Linked DNA regions of Homo sapiens: regions 1, 2 and 4 are each linked to region 3. The links come from fine-mapping of genetic effects on gene expression. A gene starts in region 3. Each other region holds a variant in brackets. All regions are shown on one strand. Distances are between the middles of the regions. Region 1 overlaps SNX31 (sorting nexin 31). Region 2 overlaps SNX31 (sorting nexin 31). Region 3 holds the start of SNX31 (sorting nexin 31). Region 4 overlaps SNX31 (sorting nexin 31).

Evidence for each region. PIP is the estimated chance that this variant, and not a neighbour inherited with it, causes the effect. A credible set is the group of variants that fine-mapping cannot tell apart.
Region 1: its variant is the best candidate, but not a certain one, in a credible set for the expression of SNX31 in skeletal muscle (GTEx, PIP 0.60).
Region 2: its variant is the best candidate, but not a certain one, in a credible set for the expression of SNX31 in subcutaneous fat (GTEx, PIP 0.76).
Region 4: its variant is the best candidate, but not a certain one, in a credible set for the expression of SNX31 in left ventricle (GTEx, PIP 0.61).

The regions. Positions count from the first base shown.
Region 1 is chr8:100,567,711-100,575,899 of GRCh38, forward strand. SNX31 (sorting nexin 31) reads right to left here. Exons shown (of 14, transcript NM_152628.4): 14 at 5,179-6,250. The coding sequence ends at 6,155. Among named protein-coding and RNA genes, the nearest start is that of ANKRD46, 12 kb to the left of the region's middle. The variant T/C (reference allele first, on the strand shown) is at 3,769.
Region 2 is chr8:100,623,838-100,631,837 of GRCh38, forward strand. It overlaps SNX31 (sorting nexin 31), which reads right to left. Exons shown (of 14, transcript NM_152628.4): 4 at 6,490-6,554. Among named protein-coding and RNA genes, the nearest start is that of SNX31, 22 kb to the right of the region's middle. The variant A/C (reference allele first, on the strand shown) is at 4,436.
Region 3 is chr8:100,645,782-100,653,957 of GRCh38, forward strand. SNX31 (sorting nexin 31) reads right to left here and starts at 3,884. Exons shown (of 14, transcript NM_152628.4): 1 at 3,668-3,884; 2 at 3,493-3,567. The coding sequence starts at 3,733.
Region 4 is chr8:100,608,427-100,616,426 of GRCh38, forward strand. It overlaps SNX31 (sorting nexin 31), which reads right to left. Exons shown (of 14, transcript NM_152628.4): 6 at 4,569-4,659; 7 at 3,574-3,661; 8 at 68-137. Among named protein-coding and RNA genes, the nearest start is that of SNX31, 37 kb to the right of the region's middle. The variant A/G (reference allele first, on the strand shown) is at 3,969.

The DNA of each region.
Region 1 (8,189 bases), 78 kb before region 3:
ACTAAGGTCAGCACCTTTAAATCAACAGAATGTCTAACCTCTTTCAAGCTATCACACAAGTAAAGCTATTTGGTTAGCTAAAGACTTTGCCCTACAGAAAAATACATGGGCTAGGGCTAGACCAAAGACCCAAACCCACCAATGACATCATGTACTTTTCTGTAGCTGTCTAATTTTTCTTAAAATTGTGGTACAGACAACTTACTTCATAAGAATACAACTGTTAGCTATTATAAAGTAACTTATGAGCAAAATGTAATTATACCTCAATAAAGTGGGGAGAAAGTACAATTACAAAGCTTAAAAGCCATCTTCTAAGAAATCGTTGGTTAGCCATACTTTTTTTAAGTTAACTCAGCATGTCTTTTTGTGTGTGACAGAAAAGCATACCTACTTTTTTGACATTTTTCTTGGACTATGGGTGACAGGAAGGAGAGAACTCTCCCGTCTTCCACAGTCCTGCGTCCACGCAAGCCACTCCCCTCATGGGCCACTGAATACACGCTGCAGGACAAGGGACAGCTAAAACAGCAGCTGAGAAAGTAGACTTGCCTCTATTGCTGAGTTTTCTTTTGTAGTTTTCCTTTGTTTGGTATTTTAGAATCATTTTGCCACTGTTTTACCACCAAAGGTTGGCACCTACTTGTTTTTTCCACAAATTAGGAACACCAAGCTCTTCTCAATTTTACTTTGAGGGTAATCTTAAGGTAATTTCTAACTGAAATGTTTAATGTAAAATTTGCTTAAATGTCCATGTGGGGATGTGTGCAAGCTGTATGCTGACCACACGCTGATGTAAACTGAGACCTAGTTCTGGGGAGGATGTTAGCTTATATATATATATATGGGATTTTAGAGTTATGAGCCAGGAACCATGGATGAAAACCAATATATATGTATCATAATACCACCAGCCACTGATGGGGACAGTCCTTTAGTCCCTTCATGTTGAGTGTTAACACATACTTGTGAAGGCATGTAAACCAGCCCTTCATTTTATCTCCCCATTCTAGACAACCGATGTTCTAATTAGTTGTTCTACTTCTCTATTACTAAACGTTTACTCTAAACTATCAGGCCACCCCCTGGTTTTCAAACACAGATCCCTTTCATCAAAAGAATATACAGGCCAGGCATGGTGGCTTACACCTGTAATTCCAGCACTTTCGGAGGCAGAGGTAGTAGGATCACTTGAGACCAGGAGTTTGAGACCAGCCTAGGCAACATAGCAAGACCTTGTCTCTACAGAAAAATAATTTTTACAAAAGGACATACAATTCAAAAGATATCGCCTTATTACTAGAATCCCACACAGTCATTAATAATTAGTCCAGTCCATCATTGTGTATGAATGTCTCCCAGAGTAAAGTCACTCAGGTTTGCAGGTTTCCTCTCAATCTTATCAGGTGCCAAAAACAGGAGTGGTCTTGGCACCTAGCCTCACCCTTTGAGGCATCTGGAATAACTGAGCTGAGACATCATGTCATCTTTTGCTCTGAGACTCTTTTGAGGTATTAATGTAATATTGAATTTCCTTCCATTAATAACCTTTTTTTTTTCTTTACTCTCAGCTACTTTTTCTCCTTCTCTCCATTAATACTCAAACTTTTTCACCTTTGGAAGGGACATTAGAATTGCCACTGTGCTGGTCTAGATTGTGGGCAGCAATACTAGTCTAGCAAGTAGCTCCTCCTCAATCCACCGCCATTCAGATAGGGTAAGGTTACACAGGTGCAGAACTAGTGAGCTAGTTTTGCCACCAGAGAACATAGCTGCATTCACTCTTGATCCCAATTTCTTAGATGGGGTGAAGGCACAACCCGCCCCCATTATCCCCTTAGGAATTCAGATACAAAGTTTAAAAATGTAGTTACAGCTTCTTGCTTAGAAATCATCCTTGCTTCCAGCACTTGTAGTTGTAGCCCTGGTCCTAGGATCATTGCATCAGGTAGAGGAGAGAAAAAAAAATTGAGGTTGTTTGGGGAAGAGAGAGAAAATTATAGTCATTATACTAGTGTACTCCTCCCTTGGCAAGAATTGCATAGTCATATCAGCATCCTCCCCAATCCCTCTTCCCAAATCAACCAAAAAAAAAAAAAAAAAAACAAACAAAGAAAACACAAAAATCTAGTGGGGACACTCCTTTAGTCCCATTCATGTTGAGTGTTAGCACCTACCTGTGAAGGTGTGTAAGCCAGCCCTTCATAATTTATCTCCCTGTTCTAGACAACCAATGTTTTATACTCCTTCTACTTCTCTATTACTAAACTATTACTCTAAGGAGGTATCTCTCTGCCCATTGTTGGATATTATGGCTTATACATTGTTCCTTGGTCTGAAGAAATGACAGTTTTCTGTACAAATCCATGCAAGTCTTCAGTTCTTGTTTTTTTATGGTGCTCTGAGCATTTTCATCTTCCACTAAGGAAGCAAAGCCCAGTCCACAGTCAGTGTCTAATTCCTGTCAAGACCAATGTGTAGCCCCCCCAGGGCTACCAGCATCAGTTTCACTTGCCAGCTCTGGTCAGGGCCTTCCCACCAGGCAATCTGCCCCATAGCCACTGGAAGTTTCTGTCTCTCTTGCTGACAAACAGGACAGTTCTTATTGGCATTCTGTGCCTGCAAAGATGCAAAAGGAACATGTTTAGATTCATCCCATCTCTGCACTGCTGCAGTATTCCTATATCCACTCACTTCATGGACCAGGTGATGACCACAAGGGCAGACACGGAGATAACTGCTTGTCTATTCCAGTCACCTTCTCAGCCTGGGGAGGAAGTTCTTCTGATGGGCATTGACTTATTCTCCTTTAATGCACCCCTCAAATTTCTATAGGGCTATGCACCATATGGACATTCCTTTAATAGATCAGATTTCCATAGTCCTCTTGCCTGAGTGTATGGCCAGGCCATTGGTCACTGCTCACGAATCAGTAAAAACCCAAACATGGAGGCTTCTACTACTGTTCAGTTCTTCCATTACTGTAAGAAAGACAGCATGCAGTTCAGCCCCCTCAGCTAATCTGTTTTTACCTTCTTTGATCAAAGCAGCAGCCTTCCAAACAGGAGGATGTTGTCCATTCACTTTGGAAATGCTTTCTGTAAACAGAGCAGCTCCTTATTGGTCAATCAAGAGCTGTTCACAGTGCACTGTCCAAGTGTCTATAGAAACCAGCAGCACCTTACAGTCTGTGTCAGTCCTGGGGGTAAAGAGGCTCCCTGCTCATGAATATCTCCTTCTTGCATTCCCCAGGTGGCATGATCCCCTAGAAACAATTTCCATTTTATTGGGGAACTCTTCTGGGCACTGCCACTCCCTGTAGCATGTTTCTCTGCTGTCAGCTCTTCAATCAAAGCCTGCACATGCTTCCCTCCATAGGGCCCAAAGGGGCTCGGTGGGGCCTGACCACAATTTAATCACCTCTGTCCAATAGTTATTCTCATTATGATTTGTGTGAAATTTTCAAACTCAGTTGTGTTTGCCTGTGGGCAAATTGTTTATGCCAGTTATTTTAGGAGTATAAACAGCAGTAAAATCTCATATGAATGTCTAGAAGTGGAAAGAAGTGATGGTGGATATAGACATTGCAGGAGAAAATGTGGTTGCCTGGGGACCATTTTTGCAGGGATATGAGGAGTGGACAAAGGCATAGGCTGGTAATTGGCAAAGCCATGTCACACCCCTTAGGATTAGCAGTTACTGAAGGATATCAACAGTCACCTACCTGATAAAGCCACGCACCAGCTGATGGCTTCTCCAGTGCTGGGG[T/C]GGCTGTGCCGGTGGCAGGGACTACCGCAGAGTGAGGTCCTCACCTCCTGGAGTGATGAGGGGGTCTCACTCGCCATCTTCTCCCAGCACCTGCAGCTGGGGAGCTCACTCTGGCAGCTGAAGTTCTGACTTTTTACGCAATGATCAAGTGTTTTGATCCAGAAGTGATTTAAACTCCTAAATTCCTAGATAAAACTAGGCCCAGTAATCCCCCAAAAAGGCTAATAGCTCCTTCTTCTCTCACATAACTACTAAGAAATGTATCATTTTACAAAATAAGTTTTGAATTTTGTTTCAATTTTTGTTTTATCATGTGCTACCCTAGTTCCTTTATTCTTCATGTTATATTTATATACTGTGGAATGCATGTCATCAATTGTATTTTTCTTCTCATATTCTGACACTGATGATAATCTCAATGTTTGGAAAAAAAACTATTAAATAAAATGCTTCTGTTTTTGTGCATCCTCAAAGGACAAACTGCTCTACATATACTGTAGAGATGCTGCATTAGGATATACATATATTTCTGATCCATCCCACTTCTTAGCTTTATCTCCTAACTACTCCCTTAACCTAAAACTTCGCTAGCACAGAACAAGTTTACTCATTTTTCTACAATGCCACATTTAATCTCCCATCTGTAACTATCCTTCCCTTTCTCTAGGGTGCCCCACCTTTGCTCACATGGCTCTACTCTTTCTTCAAAGTCCCTCTTCCCCTTGGGGCTTTCCTGATGGCCCCGACGTCCTTTGACATGCAGGTCCACACTACGCTGTTGTTGTTGTTGTTTAATAGATATTGGGTCTCACTATGTTACCCAAGCTGGTCTTGAACTACTGGGCTCAAGTGATCGTCCCGCCTTGGCCTCCCAAAGTGCTGGGGTTACAGGAGTAAGCCACCACGCCCAGCCCACATAGCACACTTTTGACACCAACCACATGTTGTCTGGGATTACTCTCTTACATATCAAGTTGAAACATGAAATTGTCAACATAAAACTATTTTTGGCCTACAAAGACAGCAATTATATATGGTTCAATTTATGTGTCTTCTTACTCCAAATACAATTTGTTGCATTCTTGTTTTCTCTGATAGCCTCTTCCATTGTGTAGGTGTTTGCTATTAAAAAGAGATAGAGCTTGACTACTCTTAAATTGGCAAAATAGTAGATAAACTTCCATTTTAATCTGAAGAGGATCCTAGTCCATTAACACATTCACTTAGGATGATTTGAGATGTTTGTGAGTCTCTGCAAAAATATCCTACTACAGCCTAAAATTTAAATATAAAAACTTCCAGTACTAGGAGTTACAGCTATAGGCATATGTTTATAAATATTATAGAATTTTTAATAGATTCTATATTTCAAAAAGATTATTCACAGAATTTTAATCAACAAATTTTATATTCACTGGAATTATTTTGTATTTATTATATAATTAGGTATACAACCCAGTTAGAACATTAGAATATTGTACTTTTTCTAATTACACTATACAGATTCCTCTGATCATCTCCCTTATTGTGGTCTTAATTCTATACATAATTACATTAATTACCATGAGAGAAATGAAGCTAGATAAGGAAAAACCTTGTGAGAAAGTATACATATTTTTAAAGCTAAGAGAATTATAAGGTATCTGATATCAGGTGCAGAGCCTTATTGCTTTCCAAATTAAAACATTCCAAATAGCATGTTGATTATTGAACTGCCTTCAGTACTCTAAGGACAGAATAAAATTATAACAATGGTCAAGCAGAGAACAGGGCAGCGTTTCACTTTGAGTACATCCATATTGGTAGGCTCAGACTTATGTGAGGAAAGAGATCAGTATTTCATCACCTCCTTGCTCTAGTTCTGTGTGGATAGATCAGAGAACCCAGGTTTCTTTTTCAGTGATTCCATTTCTCAGAGCCCTATTCTCCTCCGTTGAAGAGTCACATCTTTAGAAATCGATCCAAAATATCTTTATGATATTTTATGAGACTTTCATTTATGTAAATTCAAAACACATAAAAGACTTCATGAAGCCATATAAAGATCTATTTTAGAGAAAAAATAGAATGAGTTTTATATGAGTTGATTTGAATTTGCCACTTGTCATTTATGAGACATTAAAAACAAACTCTATACTGTCATGACGAAGTGCAAAAATAAAATAAAAACTAACTCTATAACTTGGTTCTTTTTTTTTTTCTAATCTTGAGATTTCCATAGAGTGCTGTGGTATAATACCTTGATGAATACAGTCCATGTTAATGCCAAAAAAATGGGAAGAGGTCAAATTTCCTCCACTGATGGTAGGTAGCCCACCTGAATCCCCAAGTTCTTTCACTGTCTTGAGATAGCCTCCAAGGATATTTTAAAATATGAGAGCTTTCTTCAGAGATCTTCTTCCTTTATGTTCCCAAAAACGCAGTCATCTTTAGCTATCTTAATCTTGCTTTTTCTTGATAGAAAACTAGAATAGTCTTTCTGCTGTGAAGTAAACAGAGAGGTCAGAAATGTAAATGAAAGGAAATCATTTCCATAACAATAACAAAGTCACAGAGGTTAAAACAGTATTGAAAGGGCAACAGAAAGCTTACATTTGTATAAGCAATGGTTATTTTAAACAGTTTTATTCTGTAGAAGCTTTATTTTGGGGTGAGTGTAAATACACTCGTTAGGACTGAGAAGAGCACCGCCTACTGGTTTTATGTGTCCTCTGCATCTTTCAGGGCCCTGGGATATCACCCAGGTTAACATTTAACTCTACCTGTCTTGCCTCTTTCCCCTCTTAAAGCCATGCGACTTTCAATTTTTAACTTTGCCCAAAATCTTTAGTGCACATTCCACACAAATACAAACTTTAAAAAAGAGGCTGGGCGGCCAGGCGCAGTGGCTCATGCCTGTAATCCCAACACTTTGGGAGGCCAAGGCGGGCAGATCACGAGTTCAGGAGATCAAGACCACCCTGGCCAACGTGGTGAAACCCCATCTCTAATAAAATACAAAAAAATTAGCTAGGCATGGTGGCTGGCGCCTGTGGTCCGAGCTATTCGGGAGGCTGAGGCAGGGGAATCACTTGAACCCTGGAGGCAGAGGTTTCAGTGAGCCAAGATTGTGCCACTGCACTTCAGCCTGGCAACAGAGTGAGACTCCGTCTAAAAAAAAAAAAAAAAAGAAGAGGCCGTGTACAGTGGCTCACGCCTGTAATCCCAGCACGTTGGGAGGCTGAGGTGGTGGATCACTTGAGGCCAGGAGTACGAGACCAGCCTGGCCAGCATGGTGAAACCCCATCTCTACCAAAACTACAAAAACTAGCCGGATGTGGTGGTGCACACCTGTAATCCCAGCTACTCAGGAGGCTGAGGCAGGAGGATCGCTTGAACCTGGGAGGTGGAGGTTGCAATGAGCCGAGATGGCACCACCGCACTCCAGCCTGGGCAAGGGAGCGAGACTCTGTCTCATTAGAAAAAAAAAGTGTTATGCTTATTTTAAAACATTTTAGAGGTTAGGGTTACCGCAAATCTTTAAAGAGTAATTTGCCTTCAGTACTTATGAAATCTCAAAGACACGGTTATGGAAAGTGGAAAGTGAAAAAAAAAATGTGGAGCCCCTCAGTGGGCAGATGGGCTACAACTTTTTTTCTACGAGGGATTTGTTTTGATAGAGGGGCCTCACTGCCAAGTGGTTAAAGCAACAAACTAATTTTATTTGTTAAACAACAAATAAAGACTGCTTGGGTTCAAATACTGGCTCTGATATTAACTGACTGTGTGACCTTGAGCAAGTGACTTAACCTTTCTGTGTTTCAGTTCTCTGTGCAGTAAGCCAAGGATAATAACAGTGCTTTGGTTGTTTATTGGGATTAAACGAGTTATACATAAAAAGTAATTATAGCAGTTCATGGCTCAGGATAAGGTCTATACAACAGTTTGCAAAATAAATTAAAACTCAATATAGTTGGACACTAGGTCTCTTTCCGACCTGCTGGTCCTACTCACAGCATGAGATAGGTTGGCCTGTATTAGAGTTACCACTCATCCGAGAGGACAACTGAACTGATCACAGTTGTGCTGAGTGTTATCTGTTGTCCTAGGACAGTGGCTCTCAAACTTGAACATGCATCAGATTTGTCTGGTGGGCGTGTTAAAGAGATTGCTGCGGCCTTCCCCCAGAGCTGCTGATCCAGTAGGTTTGGGGCCTGAGAATTTGAATTTCTAATAAGATCCACGTGATACAGATGCTGTTGGTCCAGGGACCACACACTGAGAACTGGTGTTCTAGGATAATGGTTCCAATTCTGGTTGTATAATAGGACCACTTGGGGAGCTTTTAAAAATTCCATTGCCCAGGCCCCTCAGACCAATTAAATCCAAATTTCTGAGGGTGGGGCTCAAGCATTAGTTTTTAGAGCTCCCCAGGTGATTCC
Region 2 (8,000 bases), 22 kb before region 3:
GACTTTGGGTAGATCATCTCGAAGGGAAAGAAACTGATGTGCTTGACTATGGGGAAAATTCTGTCTTCAGGGCTGCTATAGGTACGGAAGGAGTTTAGTCATATGTTTTGAGACAACTAAGCATTTTTTTTTCTGTTAAGTGATTCAGTTTTAACTCCAGTTGGGGGGGAGGTGGGGGGATGCGGGGAGGAAAGAGGAAGGTGTTGACTCAGGACTTAATTTTTTAAAATTAAAGTTAGGGGAGAAAGGAAGAATAGAAGTGACACAAGAAAGCTGAAATCCTCACATCCATCACAGTCAGTGGATAGGGTCTAAAAATTGAAGAATAATAGCTGGGTGCTATGGCATATACCTGTAATCCCAGCTCCTGGGGAAGCTGAAGAGGAAGGATCACTTGAGCCCAGGAGATGGAGTCCTGGGCAACATAGTGAGATCCTGTATCTAGAAAAAAATAAAACGAAGAATGAGAGATAGTCATATATGTATATAATTAACCTCCATATTTTTAAGTATCTGAAGAGAAAGCTGTAAGATTTGAAAGTCATTGCCTCTGGAGGACAGGGGAGTGTTATAATCCTTTTAATCACTATTTCACTGCTATTTTTAGATTTTTAACTTTTATTCCATCCATGATGTCTATTTCATTTTTCTAACTATAAGCACATTTTGCTTTGGTAAGTAAACAAACATTTTAGAGCAATATAATAAAGAGGAGAATTGATGGCATCAAAAGATCTTGGTGTGATGAGACCAAAGCAAGCACAAAACAGATCAAACAAGTTTAGAGTGGAAATCAAACAACAATTTGGCTCTATTTGTGATATTTGAATTTTACTAGAATGTTTTAATGTATAATTCACAAAATTAATGAAATGTAAACGCAATACAAAAACCAGCTGGGGGGAAAAGTCAACCTGGTAGAATTGGCTTGTATAAAAAAACAAAACATTAAATGAGCTGCTATCCTTTTTCTTTTTTTTTAAAGTCAGGGTCTTGCTCTGTTTCCCAGGCTGGAGTACAGTGGGCTGATCATAGCTCACCGTAGCCTCAAAGCTCTGGGCTCAAGCAATCCTCCTGCCTCAGCCTCCAGAGTAGCGGGGGCTATAGACACGTGCCACTACCCCCATCTAAATATCTCTTATTATTATTTTTTTGTAGAGACAGAGTCTCACTATGTTGCCCAGGCTGGTCTTCAACTCCTGGCCTCAAGTAATTCTCCCACCTCAGCCCCCCAAAGTTCTGGGATTACAGGTGTGAGCCACCACGTTTGGCCCAGCTGCCATACTTATCTATAATGCAGCAGGAATGAAAAAATGCAATTCATACTAGAAAACTAACAAAAATACATTCATTTTAAAGAAACCTCAAAATCCTCCAATACCATGGGCTGCCTTAATGTTTTAAAATACGTGCTTTGTTGCTATTCTGCTCTGAGGCAGAGGAACATTCTTAAGAATGTTTTCCATTTCCCTTGTAGAGAAATGACAGCGGCCCATCATTGCATGTGATGGAGGTTTAGAGCCTGGTGAGTCCACATATGGATTTTCTTGGATGCGCACCATGGCTATTAGACATTCCTCTGCCTCAGAGCAGAATAGCAACAAAGCACACCGATCTCCTTGAAAAATTAAAAGATTTCTCCAGTTGTTAAATTCAACTCAATTCAACTCAAAAAGAGCACATATTTTGAAAAGTGTTAAGGTTCTGGGAAGTGACTGTTACCTCTGTCCTGCCCTCTCTTTAGAAGCAAACAGAAAACAATGAAAAGGAAAGCATCCTTGAAGAAACTTACAAATAGCCCTGAGCCTGAGGTTTTCAGAAGGGCTGCCAAGTGCGTTGAAAATTGAACCTGGTCAGGAAGGAGGGAATCAGAGGTCTCAAAGTGCTGCAGAACTCAAGCAACGCATAAGCTGCCTCAAAGCAGTTAATCACATGGTGCTCAGCCTGTCTGAGAGCGCTACTCCGGGCCCCACTGGACACCACCTAGTGGCAGGGGATGCTGAAGAGATGTACAGACACTCCATCTTTGCAAAAAGCAATCTCTCAGCATGGCTGGGGAAAGAAAAGGGACTGGCATTAAGATTTTGCTTTTTAAAACCTATATCTTGGCCAGGCATGGTAGCTCACACCTATAATCCCAGCAGTTTGGGAGGCCGAGATGGGTAGATCACCTGAGGTCAGGAGTTCAAGACCAGCCTGACCAACATGGAGAAACCCCATCTCTACTAAAATACAAAAATTAACTGGGTGTGGTGGCATGCGCCTGTAGTCCCAGCAACTCAGGAGGCTGAGACAGGAGAATCGCTTGAACCCAGGAGGTGAAGGTAGTGACTACCTCATATCTATTAACATTGTGCCGGATGATATGCTTTAAGGGTATCAGTTAATTTAATCCTCAAAGCAACCCCAAGAGACAGGAGCTCTTCTCCCCATTTTACAGATGGGGAAACTGAGGTACAAAAAGCCTAAGTAAATTGACCCAAGTCATATAAATCAAAAGTAGGGCAGCCAAAATTTGAACTGAGGCCATCTCACTACTTAGCCTGAACTCTTAACCCCTAGACCAGGTCGGGGGCTGCTGATCTTAGTCAATCAAAATATTTAGAAGGCTAGATCATGATATGAGGAGCTGGGGTTTAAAGCTTTGCTGCTAGACAGTCTGATTAGGCCTTAGGGTAGCATGTTCATAAGAAAGTGCTCAGAAACAAGAAACAAGAACTGGAAATACAACAGATTCGATGAATTCAACTCAGGCCCCCTCCCCAGTACTATGTGTCAGCAAACAGCTAGCTCACAACAGCAGCCTGTTTCAAAGTTGATTGATGACTTAAAGATAACTGGCAAGGGATCTATGCAAAAATCCTGCAAGAAAGGAGGAAAGAAACATGACCAATGAAAGGCAAATAACATATACCAAAAGAATTACATCATTAAGCAGATGAAAATAAAAAGAAGGTGTTTCTGAATGAAGACCTCAAAGAATAGATAAAAGCCTCAAGAAATAAGATAACAAAAGGATATAAAAGTGAGCTGGTAAAGTTCACGGAAGAAATGGAAGAGGAAAATAAAGCCATTACAAAAGTGAAAATTGTGTTAGAAAAAGTAAAAAGAGGCACTGAAAAACACAGCTAGAGGTATAAGGCTTTTGTATGAAGTCACAAAGGCAAAATATTAAGGAAATGAAATCAGGTATAAAACCTTTCAAATTATCAGGAAAATAAGATACACAAAACTGGCTGGGCGCAGTGGCTCACGTCTGTAATCCCAGCACTTTGGGAGGCTGAGGCGGGAAGATCACAAGGTCAGGAGTTCAAGACCAGCCTGACCAACATGGTAAAATCCTGTCTCTACTAAAAATACAAAAATTAGCCAGGCGTGGTGGCACATGCCTTTAATCCCAGCTACTTGGGAGGCTGAGGCAATAGAATCACTTGAAACTGGGAGGTGGAAGTTGTGGTGAGCCGAGATCATGCCATTGCACTGTAGCCTGGGCAACAAGAGCAAAACTCCATCTCAAAAACAAACAAACAAACAAACAGAGATATACAAAACAAAGCTTAACAACATTGAATGATCCCATGAATGATGGAAAGCAAAACCCAGAATGCACCCCAAAAAGACGACTGAACTAAAGTCAACTTACGATTACATGTGCAGATATAGAATGATCTGCAAGACATAGGTCTAAAAGAGCAACGTCAATTTAAAAAAATTTTTTTTTCGAGACAGAGTCTTGCTCTTTCACCTAGTCTGGATTGCAGTGGCATGATCTCAGCTCACTGTAACCTCCACCTCCTGGGTTCAAGCAATTCTGCCTCAGCCTCCCAAGTAGCTGGGATTGCAGGCATGCACCACCACGACCGGCTAAATTTTTATTTTTGCAGAGATGGGGTTTCACCACATTGGCCAGGCTGGTCTCAAACTCCTGACCTCAGGTGATCCGCCCACCTCAGCCTCCCAAAGTGCTGGGATTACAGACGTGAGCCACAGCACCCGGGCATTAAAAAGCAAGGGCTAATATCCAGAATCTACAATGAACTCAAACAAATTTACAAGAAAAAAACAAACAACTCCATCAAAAAGTGGGCAAAGGATATGAACAGACACTTCTCAAAAGAAGACATTTATGCAGCCAAAAAACACATGAAAAAATGCTCATCATCACTGGCCATCAGAGAAATGCAAATCAAAACCACAAAGAGATACCATTTCACACCAGTTAGAATGGCAATCATTAAAAAGTCAGGAAACAACAGGTGCTGGAGGGGATGTGGAAAAATAGGAACACTTTTACACTGTTGGTGGGACTGTAAACTAGTTCAACCATTGTGGGAGTCAGTGTGGCGATTCCTCAGGGATCTAGAACTAGAAATATCATTTGACCCAGCCATCCCATTACTGGGTATATACCCAAAGGATTATAAATCATGCTGCT[A/C]TAAAGACACACACACACATATGTTTATTGCGGCACTATTCATAATAGCAAAGACTTGGAACCAACCCAAATGTCCAACAATGATAGACTGGATTAAGAAAATGTGGCACATATATACCATGGAATACTATGCAGCCATAAAAAATGATGAGATCATATCCTTTGTAGGGACATGGATGAAGCTGGAAACCATCATTCTCAGCAAACTATCGCAAGGACAAAAAAACAAACACCGCATGTTCTCACTCATAGGTGGGAATTGAACAATGAGAACACATGGACACAGGAAGGGGAACATCACACACTGGGGACTGTTGTGGGGTGGGGGGAAGGGGGAGGGATAGCATTAGGATATATACCTAATGCTAAATGACGAGTTAATGGGTGCAGCACACCAACATGGCACATGTCTACATATGTAACAAACCTGCATATTGTGCACATGTACCCTAAAACTTAAAGTATAATAATAATAAAATTTTTTTAAAAAAGCAAGTTGAAAAAATGTGTTGAGTGTGCGCTTGTTTGTAAAATAAAATGGGTGTGTGTGTGTGTGTGTGTGTGTGTGTGTGTGTGTAGTCATGTACCCCTTAATGACATTTTGGTCAACAGCAAACTGCACATATGGCAGTAGTCCCACAAAATGATAGTACCATATTTTTACTGTGCCTTTTCTATGTTTAGATACACAAATACCAAGGTGTTTCAATTGTCTACAGTATGCAGTACAGTAACATAGTATACAGGTTTGTAGCCTAGGGGCAGTAGGCTCTACCATCTAGGTTTGTGGTGTTCACACAATGACAAAATCGCCTAATGATGCATTTATCAGAACGAATCCACATTTTTAAGTGACACATGATTGTGTGTGTGCATGTATGTGTATATATATGTGTGCATGTACATATATATGTATATATATGCATGCTTATATATGTGCAGAAATGTGTAGCAAAAGAGCACTATAAACTATTAGACTATACACAACAGTTGTCACTGAGGAGGGGGATCATAAGGGAAGAAAAGTTACTTTTCATTGTATACGCTTGGCTATTTGAATTTTACTATCATCACCACTTCCACAGCAAACTTTTCAAAGAATAGGAAAGTGTGTGTATATATAAACCATCAAGAAATTGTGAAAATATGAACCACTACAGAACAGAAGGCTCTAGGGCCATTTCTCAGGTTGACTGGGCCAGTAAATATTCCAACACATTTGAACCCCTGTTTACATGAGATTTGTTGTGAGAACCCAATGGGATTTTATTTTATAAATGAGTAAATGAATGAATGAAATGTGTTCTCATTTTTGCAAATCTGATCATTCCTCCCCTGGCTAAGGATCCAGTTAACTAGTATCATATTACTGCGGAACTTAAATTCTTTCAGAGCTTTTCCAGCCAAGCTCATACATACAGGCATAACAATGTTTCCTTATGTGTCATTAGAATGAGTGTTGTGCTAAACAAACGTACTTAGCAGTTTCAGCCTAGGGAGCAAGTGACCCATGACTCTTTAGACCAACAAAGGAAAGGGAGTTGCTGTATGTCATTCTGTTCATGTTGAATTTTCTCCATGATTCATTTACAATAAAGGTAGGAGTAGAGAATATACAAGGAATAGCCAGCATGGCCTGCTTTCCTGATGTCTTCACTGTGGCCCATTTGGAAATCTCAGCTACAGAAGCAGGGTCACAGACATGTTATGGGAACCCTTAATGATAAAGGCTGTAGTTCTTGTACTGTACTTGAAGGTCCTCTTCTTCATGTCCTGTTTTGAGATGTATGATTCTTAGGCTACAGAAAAAGGGATCTACTTAATAAAATGAGCCAAAGGTCAAGTGACACACTTCATTTTCCATCTAAAATCTAAACCTCCAAAAGAACAAAATAGGAACCATCCCCCAATTGACTTGAAATGAATATATTTTGTCCAAGTCCAGGCTCTGTGGGGCTGTGACCAGTGCACACATGTGTGTGTACCTGCACACTTGGTTCATGAAGAGTGTCCTGCAGAGGAATGATGGCCCCATTAAAGAAGAGCAAGCTTACCAGCTGCGCCAGTTTTAAAAACTCAACGAAGACATCACTTCTCAACACGTTTGGGTCCATGGTTACTGAAAAACATGGACGGTGAGCCAGGTTAGCATGGGCTGGGCTGGGCCCTGCCTATTAATTGCTATGTCCTCCAGAGATCCCTCCATGCCTTGCCAGTGCTCTGTCTCCTCCCTGAAGTGATAAATGTTGAAACCTCTCAAATACAGGAAAACCCCCAAAGCTTGCCTCCTATAGGCAGCCTTAACAACAGGAACCCATGACACCCATCCAGGGTGACAGTGTTCCCAGGCATCTCACTTTATTTATACAAACCCATACTACTGAACATCCATTTTGCTGCCCTACCAGGATGATAATGAAGTTTATATGAAGAATCAGAAAGATCTTAAAACCTGCATCTAGACTCCCAGCCTAGCAAGACACAGGGTAATTTGAAAATTTAATTCAACCAAGAAACATCAACTGAGAGCACCTCTTTGGAGTCTCGCCCAGTCGCCCAGGCTGGAGTGTAGTGGCGTGAGCTCGGCTCACTGCAATGTCCGTCTCCTGGGTTAAGACGATTCTCTTGCCTCAGCCTCTGAAGTAGCTGGGATTACAGGCACTCACCACCATGCCCGGCTAATTTTTGTATTTTTAGTAGAGATGGGGTTTCACCATGTTGGCCAGGCTGGTCTCAAATGCCCAACCTCAGGTGATCTGCCTGCCTTGGCCTCCCAAAATGCTGGGATTACAGGTGTGAGCCACAGCACCCGGCCGAGAGCACCCCTTTGAATGATAGGAGTTCTCGAGATGTTACCAAAAAAAAGCAATGATAAGGCAGTCAGAGAGATTTAAAATATTTCATTCTTCTATAATTAACAAAAATATTTTTACCCTTAGTTTTAAAGCTCCTGACACAAATAGCCAGGAGATATGGGCAGAGCAGATGGGGCAGACACACCCCCATGAGAACTGCAAACCCACAAGGTATGGCCCAGCCTGGTTCCTCCTGGTTTACCCCCACTTGCCACAGATCCTCTCCTATATCCTGCGCTTCAGCTACACTTACATACTTACTAAATGCTGCCAAATTTCTTTCTTCCTTCTGTTTTCATTGCTGTTTTACTTTTTTTTTTTTTTTTTTGAGATGGAGTCTTGCTCTGTCACCCAGGCTGGGGTGCAATGGCGTGATTTCACCTCACTGCAACCTCCACCTCCCAGGTTCAAGCAATTCTCCTGCCTCAGTCTCTCAAGTTTTTGGGATTACAGGAGTGCGCCACCACACCCGGCCTGTTTTACTAATTTTATCAAACATCCTCTACCAGCATTCAAAACTATCACTGACTTCATTGCAGGCTGTGCCTTTCCCAAAAGACATCATGTTTTCCAAAATAAACGAAGAGAGAAAGTCCCTGCAACATGAGAAACTATTTATAAAAAGCATTCTGTCTTTTCTGAGGGGTAATTCCCGGAGTGGAGGAGGGGAAGCCCTTGCATTATTTTCTGCAATGGGGCATATAGTCAAA
Region 3 (8,176 bases):
TGTATTTTTGGTAGAGACAGGGTTTTGCCATGTTGCCCAGGCTGGTCTTGAACTCCCGAGCTCAGGCAGTCCACCCACCTTGGCCTCCCAGAGTGCTGGGATTGCAGGTGTGAATCACCATGCCCGGCCTCAGACTCTTTACCTATAAAATGAGAATGATGATGATGATTGAACTGCTGACCTTACTGGGGACTTGCTGGAACAAAATCCTGTGTCTGGAACTCGCATGACAGAGAGTAGATGTTGGAGGCCTGGGGTCAGGGCTGAATGAAGGGGATTGAGAGCAAAAAGACTATCGGGGCCAAGGGTAAACTTCCCCTTCATCCTCTGAAGCTTCACTGAAAAACCACCTGACAAAAGGCAGATTCATAGGAGGAAAGGCATACAAATTTACTAACATGCGCGGGAGTCTTACAAAATAAAAGATCTCAAAGAAATGGCCAAATAGTTGATGGTTTTATACCATCTTGAGATTACAGAAAAAAGCGGCATGGTCAAAAACAGGTTATGGTGGCAAATCAGGTTATGGTGGCAAGACAGGTCACGGGAAGAAGAGGAGAGACCCGGCAAGCAAAAGTGGTCTTAGTATACAGAGGAAACCCACAGGTAGCAGCTCTCAGAAAGAACAGTTGGTAAACATTTGTTTCAGACCTTTAAAGGTGTCAGACTCTCTGTGATTCTTTCCTAAATCTGAACAAGAGAGGACTTCAGAGAAAGCCTGGCTGCATCAATACAGATTCTCTCTACAGGTGCAAATCTCCTCCACAAAAGGCAGCTTTTCAGCTATTCTGATATTTCCAGCTTTCTACACAGCCATCTTGAAATATGTCATAGTAGTACATTTTGGGATAAAATATTTTGGTTTCCTTCAAGGACAAGGGGACTTTTAGAGTGAGGCAAAAAAAAATTTTAACCTCGATCATGGTGGTGGTAATTGTATACATTTACCAAAATTCATTACACTGAACCCATAAAGTTGGGGAATTTTATTACATTACATGATTCCAAAATACAGTAAAAGTATGTTAGTTTAGGACTCAGTCATTTGACTCATTGTTTTACTGATACGATTTATTTTATCAACGTTAGAAAGAAATCACATTAATGTAATAGGTCAGAGCAGGTTCTAGAAATCAAGTCCTGCCTCCAACATTAACAATATGACTTTAGGAAAATTGTGCCTCAGCTGCTTCACCTGTTAAATTGGACTAATTCTAATGCTAGCTCATAAGGCTATTATAAAAATTAAGCTATTACAGGTAAAGTGTTTGGTACCAAACTCAGCACACAGTAACTACTTGTTATTGTTTCAGATTGATTATAAATACCAATAGCCATCTAAGATCTAAATAGTTTCTTTAAAAATGTAGTAGTTTGTATAGAAAGGGGGAAAATGATAAATATTCATATGCGATATATGGAAGTTGGAAACTAGACAAAGAAATTTCCATTTTACTATTTTGAGAAATCTGGGATAAATATGAAATATTTATTAAAATCTATTTTATTAAAATCTATTGTATGTCCTACTGAGGGCACTGAGCCATGGTAATTCAATATTTAAAGGCCCCAATAGTAAATAACAGACAATTTCTACTTCATGTCTTACCAAATAGAAGATCAAGAATAAAATTTACTCACTCTATGCCTCTGCTTCTGGACCTGCTAGGATTTGGTTCATCTGAGTTTTCCTGAAAATAAGCATTTTCCCAAGTCTATTGGGTAAGGAGGGCCAGATTCAGGAGTGCTTGAAGCCTCTTGAGTCCACAAATGTTTGCTGAGCATATATTATGTACCAGGCTCTGCAAGCAGCTGGCCCCTAATCTTCACAAGCACACTGTGAGGCTGACATCCATAAGGACCCATTTGCTTATTATTTCTGATGAGAAAATTGAAGATCAGAGGAGAGGTGAGGTGATCAGCCAGGACGCAGTTGATCAGTCACAGGCTCTCTTGCTGCCTCCTGCTCTGCTCCTGCCCCTTCCCCACCTCAAGCTGCAGGAAAACAGAGGAGGGTAGGAGAGGATACCCTGCCTCCCCCTGCCAATGCCTAAGACACTCATCCTTTCTCTTCCTTTGAGATCCCTGCCTCTGCAGTCCTCACAATTCCCCATGTGTTTCAGTCACAAGTAGCTTCTTATCTTCCAGAAGTCTGAATCTATGCCATTCTTCATTCAATCATTTGACAATCGTTCCTAAGGACCTACTGGGTCACAGCACTAGTAATACAAAGATGACCACTCAAATTAACTAGTAACCACATTACAACTGTTCTTGGTTGACTCCAAAGATACTTAATCACACCTTGAAAATGGACTTTTCCAATGCACTGTGATGTATGAGCAAGAAGGCTTGCTACAGTGACAATTTAATAGCAGAAAAAACAAACTAAGCTGTCGGTCAACAGAAGATGGTTAAATGAAACATGGTGTATCTAACTCACTAGAAACCCAGAGACTGTCTGAAAAAACTCTCTCAAAACAAGCAAACAAACAAAAACAGCTGTTACCTCTGGGAAAGTTTTTTCAGTTTTCTCTACACTTTTTTTTTTTTTTTTTTTAATAGAGACAAGGTCTCGGCTATGTTGCCCAGGCTGGTCTCAAACTCTGGGACTCAAGTAATCCTCCTGCCTCAGTCTCCCAAAGTATTGGGATTACAAGCATGAGCCACGGTGCCTGGCCTATACTTTTGTTTTTAATGTTAGGTATGTGCTGTTTATAACCTAAAATCTAAAACAAAAAAACAAAAATCACTATTCATGGGGGAGTGGAGGAGGAGTGTAAAGTTTATTTCTAAACTTTCATTTACTTCTCTAATCCATTTTGAAGACTTATAACACCTCCTTATAAGAACAATGAAACCCATTAGAGCAGACTAATAAATCAGTCTGCCTCCCAGAGAAAATACTGTCAAGACAGCAGGGTGAGAAACTATCCTAGCTTGGTAAGTCATGTTCCCTGGTTCCCAGCCTGCCAGTACTTGAAGCCTCATGGCCATTCAAAAACAAAACTAGAGACACACCTTTTTAAAGGGGGCAAACTTAAGAAACTCTCGAGACAAAGGAGATTAAATACCCATGTACAAGACTCCAAAGACTCTAGGCCTTGATCTAGACCCAGTTTCCAAATTTTGGAGGGAAGCATTGTCCTGGGGAACAGCGGGCACTGAAATGGGGCCCAGCATAGCCCCAGCGCCCTGCCAGGCGGCGCTAGCGGGGATCACCCGGCTGCAACTGCGAGGGGCTTGGAAGAATCACCTGCGCCCGGTTCCCTCATCTCACAGCTGTAGGCGACCAGGAGCCGCAGCATGCATTCATCCAACTGTATGCCAAGCAATTCAGTTCATCCTTACCAGGACCCTGTTTCACAATAGGAAGCCCGAGGCCGTGAAAGGCCCAGTGTCTTGCCAGAGTCAGAGGAACAGAGCGCTTTGGGGACAGCTTTCTCCACCTGTCTCAGTGGATGGGCTCGTACCCGCCTCCAATCTGCTCACCTGTTCGTTCCAACCGTGCAGCTGGCTGTAGCGCACCCTGCAGAAGAGGAACCCGTCCAGGTGCACGGAGTACAGCTGCAAACACACAGACACCCCGTCCCTGGTGAGCCGAGGGATAAGTGAGCATTGCCACCGGCCCCCTCCCTGCCCACCCTGACCCCAGCCCTGGGCGCACCACGTAGCGGCCCCCCAGCGCGTCGGACCGCTGCTGGGACACCGGGATACAGAAATGCATCTTCATGGCTGAGCGGTGTCTTGGGAGTAGCGCTGGGAACCCGACCTGCGGCGGCGGGCGGTGCGCGGCTCTGAACTCGGCAGCGGTGGACGCAGCGCGGCCTGCCACGCGACTCAGAGCGAACCCCGGCGCCCGCTCTCGCCGGCCGGGGACATCTACAGGTGGGGCCGGGGCCGGGCCGCGCCGCCTCCCAGTCCCCGCCCCATCCAGCCCCGCCGCTCTGGTCCCGGGATAGGTGGCGCCTGGGGCTGGGGCGCATCCACGGCCACCCCCACCCCGGACATCGGCCACTGTTGGCATTTTCTCCAAGAAGGCCCGTGAGGGGCTTGAAAACAGTTTGTGTCCCATTACCTGCCAACGCTGCCTGCAGTGCACTAATTAAGATTTCTGTAATTACATAGATCTAGTAACTGCCTTATGATTAGCAGAGTTATGTTTGGTCAGTTTTTTTGTACTGACATTTGTTAAATGTAACACAAGACATGCAGCAATATATGCAACCTTGCTTTCGTATTATTCTTTCAATCTTGTTTTTTCCCCTTAAAATACCAGAAGCCCCCCCCAAATGGAAATGGCTTGGGTTTCTCTTGATCCCTGAGAAGCCCTCATTTTTAGACAGGTGCATTCACATAAACACTTGGTTCTCTGGACTACCCAGTGCAAGTTCTTTCAACAGTCTCTCATTTTTAGTTGCTGTGGAAAATAATCTTCCTAATTCTCTATTTTAGTTAAATGAAACTAGAATTCCTCCCACCTTGCCGTGATCACAGAGCACAGAGATGCTGCAGCTCTCACCAGCCTGTTCTGTAGCAAGCCTGGGCTGGCTCCGTTCTTCCCTCTCTCCTTTAATCTACCCGTAACTCTTCCAGGTAAACAGAGGACATCCTACCACGGACAAAACAGGCCCAGGGGGTGGAGGAACTTGTCCAAGCTCACAGGGCATTTTTTTCATGGGTCTGAGTCGTTTACTGCAGGATTTCATCAGGATCATTGAAAGTCCTTTCAAATGCCAGTCATCCCTGGGGTAAGAGCTGCATGCCTGAAACGGGAATCCGAGACTAAGGAAGGAGAAGCGACGCCTGCCAAACACCGGTGCCTCCTGCGTGCTTGCTGGGTGCCAGGACCTGACATATGCTATGCCATTTAATTTTCACAAACACCTGTGGGCTAGGAGCCATTGACAGTTCTGGTCTTATAGAAAAGGAAATTGAGGCTAGGGCCATTAAGTGAGGGAAGCAGTATCATATAGTAGTTAAGAGAATGGCAACAGGAATTCATGTCCCAGCTTAGTGGCTTCTAGTTGAGAGGCCTTGGGCAAATTAGTGTTTTTTGTGTTTTTTTGTTTTTTTTTTTTTTGTTTTGAGACAGAGTTTTGCTCTGGTTGCCCAGGCTGGAGTGCAATGGTGCGATCTCAGCTCACCACAACCTCTGCCTCCCGGGTTCAAGTGATTTTCCTGCCTCAGCCTCCTGAGTAGCTGGGATTACAGGCATACGCCACCACACCCGGCTAATTTTGTATTTTTAGTAGAGACAGGGTTTCTCCATGTTGGTCAGGCTGGTCTCAAACTCTTGACCTCAGGTGATCTGTCCACCTCGGCCTCCCAAAGTGCTGAGATTACAAGTGTGAAATTAGTGCACTCTTTAAGCTGCAGTTCCTTCTTATGAAATCATGTTAATAACTCTACTTACTTCAAGGGAATTTTCAGTCCAGGATAGATGGGCCTTAGGGTATTTCCCCTGCCCATAGGCCATCTCTGATCTGGAAGGCCTCCCTATACCAAGGCCAGGGGTATTCCTGAGTGCCTCTTGGGACAAAGCCTGATCACGGCAGCTCTGGAATCTGGTCTGATCTTCAGGGCAAAGCAGAGCATTTTGGTCAGACCCAGAAGTGGCCCCAGCTTTCCTGGAACTTTCCTGCTCCAGTGAATGGCCTGGACCCTGGTTTCACCCCATGGCATGTCCAAACAGGGCCATTTCCTTCCTTTCACTAAGTGCCCCCCTGGAGTTGAACTGGAACAGGACAGGCCTCTGTGCAAGTCACCGTCCTCTTGCATCCCTGACCTCTGCTGTAGCCAGTCAGCTCTTATTCAGTCATTCAGTCAGTGAACATTATTGAGCTCCTTCTGTGTACTCCACACTGTGCAAGACAATCTTCAAACATGACCAAGAGAGAAGTATAATAATGGTAGCAGCGATTGGAGGCGCTGCTCTGAACACTTTACATGAATGAAGTCATTTAATTCTCACAATTGCCTGAAGTAGGTACTGATATTATTCTCATTTCACAGATGGGGAAACTGAAGCATAGGGCAATGAAGAAACTTGCTCTGAATTGCAGAATTTGTGAATAGTAGATGGGGGATGTGAAGTAAGTGATCTGCCTCTAGAGCCTGTGCTCTGTGAAGCTGCTTTTCAGGGGTGCCTGGGGAAATCTGTACCACGACTTGACAAGCGCACCCTTTACAAGTTTTTAATTCTTTTTTTTTTTGAAACAGTGTCTTGCTCAGTCACCCAGGCCGGAGTGCAGTGGTGTGAGCTCGGCTCACTGCAAGCTCCACCTCCCGGGTTCATGCCATTCTCCTGCCTCGGCCTCCCGAGTAGCTGGGATTACAGGCACACGCCACAATGCCCGGCTAATTTTTTGTATTTTTAGTAGAGACGGGGTTTCACCGTGTTAGCCAGGATGGTCTCGATCTCCTGACCTCATGATCTACCCGCCTCGGCCTCCCAAAGTCGTGGGATTACAGGTGTGAGCCACCGCGCCCGGCCCACAGGTTTTTAATTCTTGATGGAGTTTTAAATAAACATTTATGATGCTCAATTTCTGAATCAATCCTATATTGTTTCCAAGGGGTATTTTAATTTACTCTGTGCCTGGTGCATGGTCAGCACTCAATAAAAGCTTAACATTTCTTCATTCAGGGAGTATTCATTGAGTGCTTCTTATGAGCCAGGCGCTGCAGTGAGGCTGTTAGACATGGCAGCCTCAGTCCCCTAACCTTATGGAGCCTAAGCTTATTTACAGATTTTAAAAAGAGGCCATTTCTGTAATATGGCCCATAGTATTACAGAACAAATGCACTATTTCCTACTTTGAAAGCCTTAGGCATTATTTGCATGTTGCCTCTCATCTACTTGGTGTGTAATCTTTTTGGCTCTTTGATATCTGGTACCCACACTCTTTTGGAGGTATGGATAATGAGGTATGGCTCTGTCTTGTTCTGGAACTTTCCACGTCTCCTGAGTCCTTCACACCCTTGGGCCTCTGGGATGGGGAGGGCAGTAGGGTCCACGAGGGAGCCAGTGAGATGGATCATAATGTCTGGTGCTCTACACCAGAGGGGCCCAGCCAATGTGCATTATGGGTTCCTTTGCTGCATCTTTTCTTATAGCCCAGGTGTTGCGCACATCACCCCAACAGTCAAGGCTGTGGCCATATGAAAAAAAGGGTCTTGAGCAAACATGGAAGAGATTCCTGGTTGGTGGACACCTATTTTGAGCAAACACAGAAAGGGATAGGAGCTGGAAGGTTGGGCATGCAGAGTTAAGTCTTCGCATCCTGTGTATTTTTCTTCATCTGCCTGTGTCCTCCTCACTCTCTTGAGGTTCAGACGAGTGAGTCAGAAAGGTAAGGCTGGATGGCTTGGGATGTGTATCTTTCTCTGTCTTTACTTGTATTGGTCTGTGTTGGGTGCTCTAGGGTCTTTGGAATTTGAGGAAATATATAAAATTATACGATACATAGGAGAACTACAAAATCACACCAGTGGTTCTAAAATGTCCATGGTTCCTGGAGGATTTTCTGGTCCAGAACACCTACTCAGAGACTGACTGTAGTTGGTTGAATAGTGTCCTGATTTGGAAATAGGGTCTTGGCAGACATCATAAGGTAAGGCTCAAGATGAGATCCTACTGGATTAGGGCAGCTCCACATCCAATTAGCGTATCCTTATAAGGCACAGAAAAGGAAATACAGAGACACAGAGGAGAAGGCCACATGAAGACGAGGCAGAGCTGGAGTTGTGCTTCCAGAAGCCAAGAAGCGCCTCAGGCCACCAGAAGCTCAGGAGAACAAGGAAGGAGTCAGCCCTAGAGCTTTCAGAGAGAGCACGGCTCTGCCGACACTTTGATTTCAGACTTCCAGCCTCCAGAACTATGAGAGAATTCATTTCTGTGGTCGTAAGCCACCCAGTTTGAGGCACTTTGTTATGGAAGCCATAAGGAAAACCTACACTGATGCTGTGGCCACAGTCAGCCTCATACCAGAGAGCAGAGGGCTGAGCCCCTGGCCGTGTGCGCATCTGTGGAGAATGGAACAGAGGAAGAGCAGCTCAGAGGAAAGGAGACAGTGTCCTGCAATCTGAGGGACAGTGTCCTGAATGTAGTAACAAGACTGGCTAACCCTATGCAGCACTCACTCTTGGCCAGACATAACTCTGTGTAACATGC
Region 4 (8,000 bases), 37 kb before region 3:
GTTTAGTGGCTCCAAGCCAACATGGCCTATGATCTACGGTGCTGTCTGAGCTCTTGGTGACCCTCACCTGCATGTAGAGCAAATCTACCGCCACCCTGCAGTCCATCAGCACGGAGTCGAGGGATGGAGCCATATACCTGCAAAATTCAGGAGTGTGAAATTCATTCCTGTGACATGGCCCATGGGCACACCTGGCAAGTGCTTTGGAAAGTGGTGGCCCTCTACCCTATGAACCAGGGCCCCCTTTTCCAACAAAGCCACACCTCCACTTGCCCAGCTTTCACTCTGCCCCTCCACCTCTTTCGTTTCCTAATTTCTTTACACCGTAAGCTCTTGCCTGGAGGGCTCTAAGAGTAAAGAGGCACAAAAATAAAGCTTTAGGGGAATGGTCTGCATCCCTGTTCACATTCAGCCTCACTCTTGGCCACCAAGATGCGGATTCCCTTTCTCCACCGCACAATACCTGGCATAGTCAACTGCCCCACACAGACCTACCCCCATATTCACCACCCTGCAGCAGGGCCACCCTCATCTCTTGCCTGAGCTGCTCTGGGAGCCTCCTTTCCAGGCTTTCTGTCTCAGCCATGTGCCCTTAATCTGATGCTCCACATTCTAACCAGAGTGGTCTTTCCTGTGAAACTTTTCAGACTCTCATTGTTCCTGGAGTTAGATATTTATTCTACTCACTTTCAAGGCCCTTCCGGGGACCACCCCCACTTTCATTTCCAGTTCCATCTCTCACCAACCCCACCACCAACGCTACATTCCAACCATGTTTTCTCTCCTCTCTCCCTGCCTGGAAGACCAAGGCCCTCACCAGTCTCCTCCCCTGACTGATTGGCCTTTCTTTGCAAGCCTTATGCAGTGCCCCCTCCTCTGGTCCCTACTCCCCAAGGCTGTATTAGCCGCCTGTCCACTGTGCTTCCTCTGCACCCTGAGTTTATTCCAATTGCCACTCTGATTAAGTTTTCTTGACACCATCTGTGAAGAACCCCAAGGCCAGGGGCCTATCCAGAGTTGCCCCTCTGAATCTTGACAGAGTGATTTGCAAATAGCAGGGGCTCCGTGTCTGCCTGTCAGATCCAGAATCACGAGGAACTGAAATTAATGACTGTAGAAGCACAGTAGCATGTTAAGAAGGGACTGAAACTGTCAGGAAAGGGTACCTATGGCTGATCTCTACCAACCAGAAGGCAGAGGCAAGCAGAGTTGCTATGCTCAGAATAGGGTGAATAGACCAATGGGGTTGGCTTAGACCAGGAAAGGGATAAATATGGTGCTTGAAGGTCAACTTCATTCTGGGGTGGGGAGAAGTAACTGAAGCATCCCTACTTACATTCCAGGTAACTATGCACCCACACATCCCAGAGGCCCCTGTGTGCAGAGAATAGACCCATCCCAGACTGGGGCTCCCACAGGCCAGCACAGGTACCCTGTGGCCTGGAGGAAGCCATATCATCATCATTGGAGAGATGCACCCAGGCATCTCTCCTTAAGGACAGAGAAGTCCTTAAGACGCCACTTAGGCCTCACTGAGGCTTCACCTGCTGGGAATCACTCAGCTTTTGGAGCTAGCCTTCCAGCTCCCATGCGGCAAGACTTCCCTCTGGAAAGAGGGCAAGGCACCTGCAGGAGCCTATGCCAGAATCTCCCCTCCAGAGACCTGATCCTCAGCTCTGACAATAGAAGTGGAACCTCCTTTCTTCCCAGTTCCCATCAACAGAGGCAATCTGCCTAGATCTGAGATGCTGGCTAATAATTTGGGGTAGACGTTTTCTCTTGCACGTATCATCTAGAGTTTACGTATTTAAAAAAGACATAGGCAATGCCTAATTTCTAATTCAAGCTTCAAGGTAAGAAACAGAATCATCATCTCTCCTTTGATCTCAGGTTTTATGAAGCGCACATGAGTGAAAATCTAAGCCCCAAAGATTTTTTTTTTTTTTTTGCTTCCTATAATCACCATCATCATCAATATAACAGTCACAAACATGACCAAAACTTACTGAGCATATGGGACTATTTTACATAACTCTTGCAATAACCCTTATAATAATCCAATAAACTATTTTTATTATTCCCATTTTACAGATAAAGAAACTGAGGCTTAGAGAGCTTGAACGACTTGGCTAGGTTTACGCAGCTAAGACCTGAGCAAGGCGCAACTTAGATTCACATACTGTAATTCCAGGAACAACTGTGCTCAGCCATTCACTACAGCAAGCAGCTTCCAGAACAGCTGTTCTCTAAACCATTGGATGGAACTGAGTTCTTCTCCCCTTCTCAGGGTTTCACATCTCAAGATCTGGACCATTCCTCAGGATACTTCTGAACAGCAGTATATGAACTGCCTTGCTGGGAATATCCTTCCACAATTCAAAGCCACAAACTGGAGCTCTAGAGCAAGGCATCACAAGGTCAAGGGAATTCTTAGATTTCAAAATACCTTTCTTTAAAACTTCTGTACTCAGATAACAGAATAAATGGGCTGGGAGAGAGCGAGCCTAAGGAGCAATCCCCTGCAGCCACGGTAATAAACACTGGGAGCTGCAGGTTATAGGACTGGGGGTGCATAAGGTCCTGCTGCTCAGCGCTATTTTCTATAATATTTTGTTCTCCACAGGCTCCTGTGTTACTGGAGGAAATGACAGTATTTTCTGCAGAGGGATACTTGTGTCCTACCTATCTAGGAATATGGATGGCCCTGTACACATCCTTTAGGCATGTGTAAGCCCAGTACTTAGAGTTCAAATTCACTGCAACCTGGCTGAATCCACCCTTCACCTTCAGGGAATACCACACTTCTACGGATAAATCAGATCTGGTTGTAATCATCAACAAAGTCCCTCCATTAATGCAGCCAGTGATGCATTGCAAAGCAAACCCAAGGCCAGCCATTTCCCACCATTACCTGCTTTAATCCATGTCCCCTGGCCCCGCCCCTGGTTTTCAAGTCTTACTTTCTTGTTCGCCTATCAGTAGAGATGCAGAAAGATGGCTACCCTCCTCATTTTCATACCCCACCCCGCCCTGAGTATTTACCTGAGACTACTGATAGTCACCCTCAACATCCTATTCTTTAGGACAAATATTCAGAAACCAGTTTATTTCACCCTCTCTCATTTTCATTGCTTTTCTTTTCTTTTTGAGACAGGGTCTTGCACTGTTGCCCAGGTTGCAGTGCAGTGGTGTAATCTTGGCTCACTGCAGCCTCGATCTTCTGGGCTTAAGTGTGTCTCCTGCCTCAGCCTCCTGAATAGCTGGACCACAGATGCACAACACCACATCTGGCTAATTTTTTTGATTTTTAGTGGAGATGAGGTCTTGCTATGTTGCCCAGGCTGATCTTGAACTCCTGGGCTCCAGCAATCATCTTGCCTTGGTCTCCCAAGGTACTGGGATTATAGGCATAAGCCACAGCACCTGGCCTTCATTGCTTTTCTCAGAGCCTTCTCTAAGTTCTTGGTCTCCAGCTGTCAGGCTATGAGCAGGATGTGACGGGACTCTGGTAAGTCCTGATGGGCAATGGCGAAGTGTCGTCAAACGCCTCTGTCACTTTCAGAACCTACTTACCACTTTCGGAGTCCAACCTTACAGTTTTCCACCTCAGAACTTCCAAGACTAACATAAGGGAGTTCAAAGTCAGCCAATTTTTTCACAACTAGAGAAAGGAGAAAGCCGGTCTTACTGGTTGAAACAGCACAGACAGCTTATATATAGCAGCTTTCAAATGAGAAAATAAAACCTTATTATTGGAAATAATAAAATCACAGTAAGAATATCCTCTGTATTTACACGTAATTTTAACTTTCTGAAGTTCATTCAAAAAATAAATATCATTTGATCCTCAAAAAAAAACAGCCCCTTGAGTGGGGGGTGTTTTACACTGTGATATAGATGAAAAAATAGATCCGGAGACATCCAGCGCCTTCGCAGCTCACCGCAGGGCCTAGCAGCCAACCCTCTAC[A/G]CAAGCCCCTTAACTTCCAACTCAAAACCACCTCCCCTGGCTTCTTGAGGACATTTATAAACTACTTTAATATAACTGATACCATTTTACAAAAAAAAAAAACTTGTAATATCTAGAAACATACTGTAGAGAAAACAAAAGATAGGAGAATCAGACTGTCTTCTTACACTATCTCATTACACTTGAAAAAAGAATCTAATAACTCATTGATACCATCCACAAATATTCCTTAACAAGGAGAAATGATGCTGTGGTGGGGCGTCCTGACCCCTGGAGTCTAGCACTCCATTCACAGGAAACGGTGCAGGCGAGTGGTCAGTGGTCAGGCCGGGCCTGCGGTAAAGGGGAGGGGGTCAGGATTAGGGCTGGGGGTACACAAGTGCAGTTACTGGACCACCCAAGGTATGAGCGGTTTGCCCCCACTCTCCCCTAACAAGGACGCAACCTCCTATTCCCTAAACCCTTAACCCAGTGACTGAGAACAGTGGTAGGGATCACAGCCCAGTGGGTGGCCAGCCCCTCAGCTGTGACTCCTATGAGCCCCTGCTCACACCTGTCCACCCCATCTCCTAGCTGATTCATTTGTTCCTTCCTTCTTACCAGAGAGCTTGCCCTCCTTGCCAAACCGAATGAGAAAGAGGCCGAAGTAGCCCAAGAGCTCTCGACACAGTCCAATTTTGTGTGACACCACCTTTAACCAGAAACAAGCAGAAAGGGAAAAAGTTAGGTGTGCCCACCATGCATCCTAACTGTGACATGCAGACTTGGAAATGGCCGGTACACATCAATAAAAAATGCTGTCATGGGTTAGTGAACACTCAAAGAAAGCTTTTTGGAATCAAAAAATGGTATCCATCTTAGAAAATTTTAAAACACAAAAAAATTAGAATAAAGAAAATAAAAATCAGCCCCACCACAATGGACAGAGGCTGGCCCCAAGTTGAGGTTGGTCATCCCATCTCAGATGTGGACTCACTCCCGGATTGTCTTGGTCTTTATTTTCCCCTGGAGGGCAGCAGCCATGTTCCATGAACATCTGTCCTTCTGTGATGTCTGTCCCTGGAACCTGCACACTAGTTTACCTTCCTGTGGGCTGCATTACCAGCTATTTGGAAAAGGATCACTCCCCGCCGCTTGGCTGGCATACAAACGTGCATGCGCTACTGCCCACCTTTGACACGCCAGGCCTGCTTCGCCTTGATGTTTCCTGCGATGGTCAACTGTAATTTACTAGGATGTTTGCAAAATGAAAACCTCAGATGCCAGGCACAGGTTGCCTTCCTTCACATTCCTCTTTGACTTATATCAAACAGCTTTCATTTCAACGCCAGTGGCTTCATTTTTACCATCAGCCTACCAGGGTGTCACCTCACAGCATTGGACATCTACTCACGCTCCCTTAGCAGAAAATTCTACACGACCACAGGCTTCCTCCCTGCCATCTGCCCAGCCCAGCCCCTATTTAACACTGGGCTCTCGAGTAATTTCTTTATACTCCTGGTCTTAACTCACTAAATCACCTCTGTACCACGCAAGGAGAGGCCTCCAAGCACTGCCCTCCAGAGCTGCTTTACCCACGACTCCCAGTTCTCTAGGTGGCAGTTGTACAAATACCAGGCTCACAGGGGGCCTTCTCTTGTCAGAGATACATAAATTACCCCCAGGAAGCAGTCTGATTAGGTGGCTGGTATGAGTGGGTGTTCTCAGCATAGCTTTGAAAATAAAGAGCAGCTGAGGAATAGTTTCACCACTTTCAAAGCAATTCCCTTCCCCTTCTTTCTGTCTCTCTCTTTCCCCCATGTTTTGGGCTGCAAAACACCCAAAAGCCAAACACAGTGGGTAAGTGTGTGGTAGGTAACAGCATAGTAAAGACATCTTTCCCAGAGTAAACCTGACCCAGGTCCACTCAAGTTAGATTTCCTTCTTTTCTGTCTAATTCAGGGAAAACAACAAGCTTACATGCCAAGGCAGACAGAGGAAAGGCATGGGGGCAAAAGGAGAATGAAGAAGCCTTTCGCATTCATAAAGACATAAATATAAACACCTTCTTTTGAGAGGAGTGAGCATCAGCAAAAAAATACGTAATAATATTTTTCCTCTTAGCAAATGTTAATGATGATTCAAAACACGAACGCCATCACTAGCACCACAGTAGTCCTAGATTTTAGCTTGCTGCTGGCCCTTAAAGAGGCCATTGAGGCCCGGCACGGTGGCTCATGCCTGTAATCCCAGCACTTTGGAAGGCTGAGGCGGGTTGATCACCTAAGGTCAGGAGTTCAAAACCAGCCTGGCCAACATAGTGAAACCCCATCTCTACTTAAAAAAAAATACAAAAATTAGCTGGGTATGGTGGCACGTGCTTGTAATCCCAGCTACTCAGGAGCTGAGGAAGGAGAATCGCTTGAACCTGGGAGGCAGAGGTTGCAGTGAGCCAAGATTGTACCATTGCATTCCAGCCTAGGCAACAAGAGTGAAACTCCATTTCAAAACAACAACCAAAAAAGAGACCATTGAAAAGTAAAAGGCAGGCTGTGGGTGAGGCAAACCTGGGGAAGCAAAGTGAGAATGGCAGCAAGTGTGCTGGAGAAGATGCAGAAGGCGATTTTTAATTATAAAACTTAAATTATGGTTTTATGCAAGCTAGAGAATTTCCCAGCTCCTGGAAGGAAATTCACACCTGTGGCTGACCAAGTGACCACTTCACCTGTTATGGAAACTACCACTTCTAGGGTAGAACCTCCAGTTAAACTTACCTGATCTGATGATGTCAACGTCTTGGGTCTGAATTTCTCACAAGCCAACATGATTGGAAGAGAGGAAGCACATTTTTCTGACTGCAAATGTACTTCATCAAATGTATGCTATTAGTTTCAAGGGAAATGGACAAAACAGATGGTACCACAGAACCCTGGAGATACTGCCCTACTCAGTACGTATTCAGCACTCCCTCCAATATCAAGATCAATACCAATACCAATAATGATAAATAAACACAACTGCCATTGTCTCGGGAACGTGAACTATTTCTATAATTATTTACTTAGACATTGTCTGTAAAGTAACTTACCCAAATTCACACAGCCCTTACACAGCAACACTGTGCAGCTGTGTTTTGCTTAATGACAGGAATACATTCTGAGAAATGCATCGTTAGGCGATTTTGTTGTTGTGTGAACACTGCGAAGTGAACTTACACAAATCTAAATGGTATTGCCTGCTATACACCTAGGCTAGACGGTATGGCCCGCTGTTCCCAGGCTACAAGCCTGTTAGCCCAGGTTTATAGTAGTATAGTAGGCATGTTACTGTACTAAATACTCTAGGCAACTGTAACATGCTGGTAAGTATTGGTGTATCTAAACATATCTATTGTTATTATTATTATTATTTTTGGAGACGGAGTCTTGCTCTGTCGCCCAGGCTGGAGTGCAGTGGCGCGATCTCGGCTCACTGCAAGCTCCGCCTCCCGGGTTCACGCCATTCTCCTGCCTCAGCCTCCTGAGTAGCTGGGACTACAGGCACCCGCCACCACGCCCGGCTAATTTTTTTTTTGTATTTTTCAGTAGAGATGTGGTCTCACTGTGTTAGCCAGAATGGTCTCGATCTCCTGACCTCGTGATCCGCCCACCTTGGCCTCCCAAAGTGCTGGGATTACAGGCGTGAGCCACAGTGCCTGGCCAAAACATATCTAGACATAGAGAAAGTACAGTAAAATATTGTATCATAAACTTATGGGACCACCATTGTATATGCAGTCCAATGTTGACCGAAACGTCATTATTATGTGGCACATGACTGTAATTTGAATCCAGGACTCATCCTAAACCCAGAAGATAGGAGACCCCAAACTATCACCACCACCACTGGCTTCAGCTGCAGGCATGTCTAGTTTGGTCAGCAAGCCCAGTGTGTAAAAAAAGAAGTCAATGATGATGTCTTTGGGGAAGGCAGGTGCTCTCTCCTGTTCTATATCTGATCCTGCAGCTGTACCCCAGAGCTACCTGCCTGGCCCCAGACACATGCAGTCTGTGG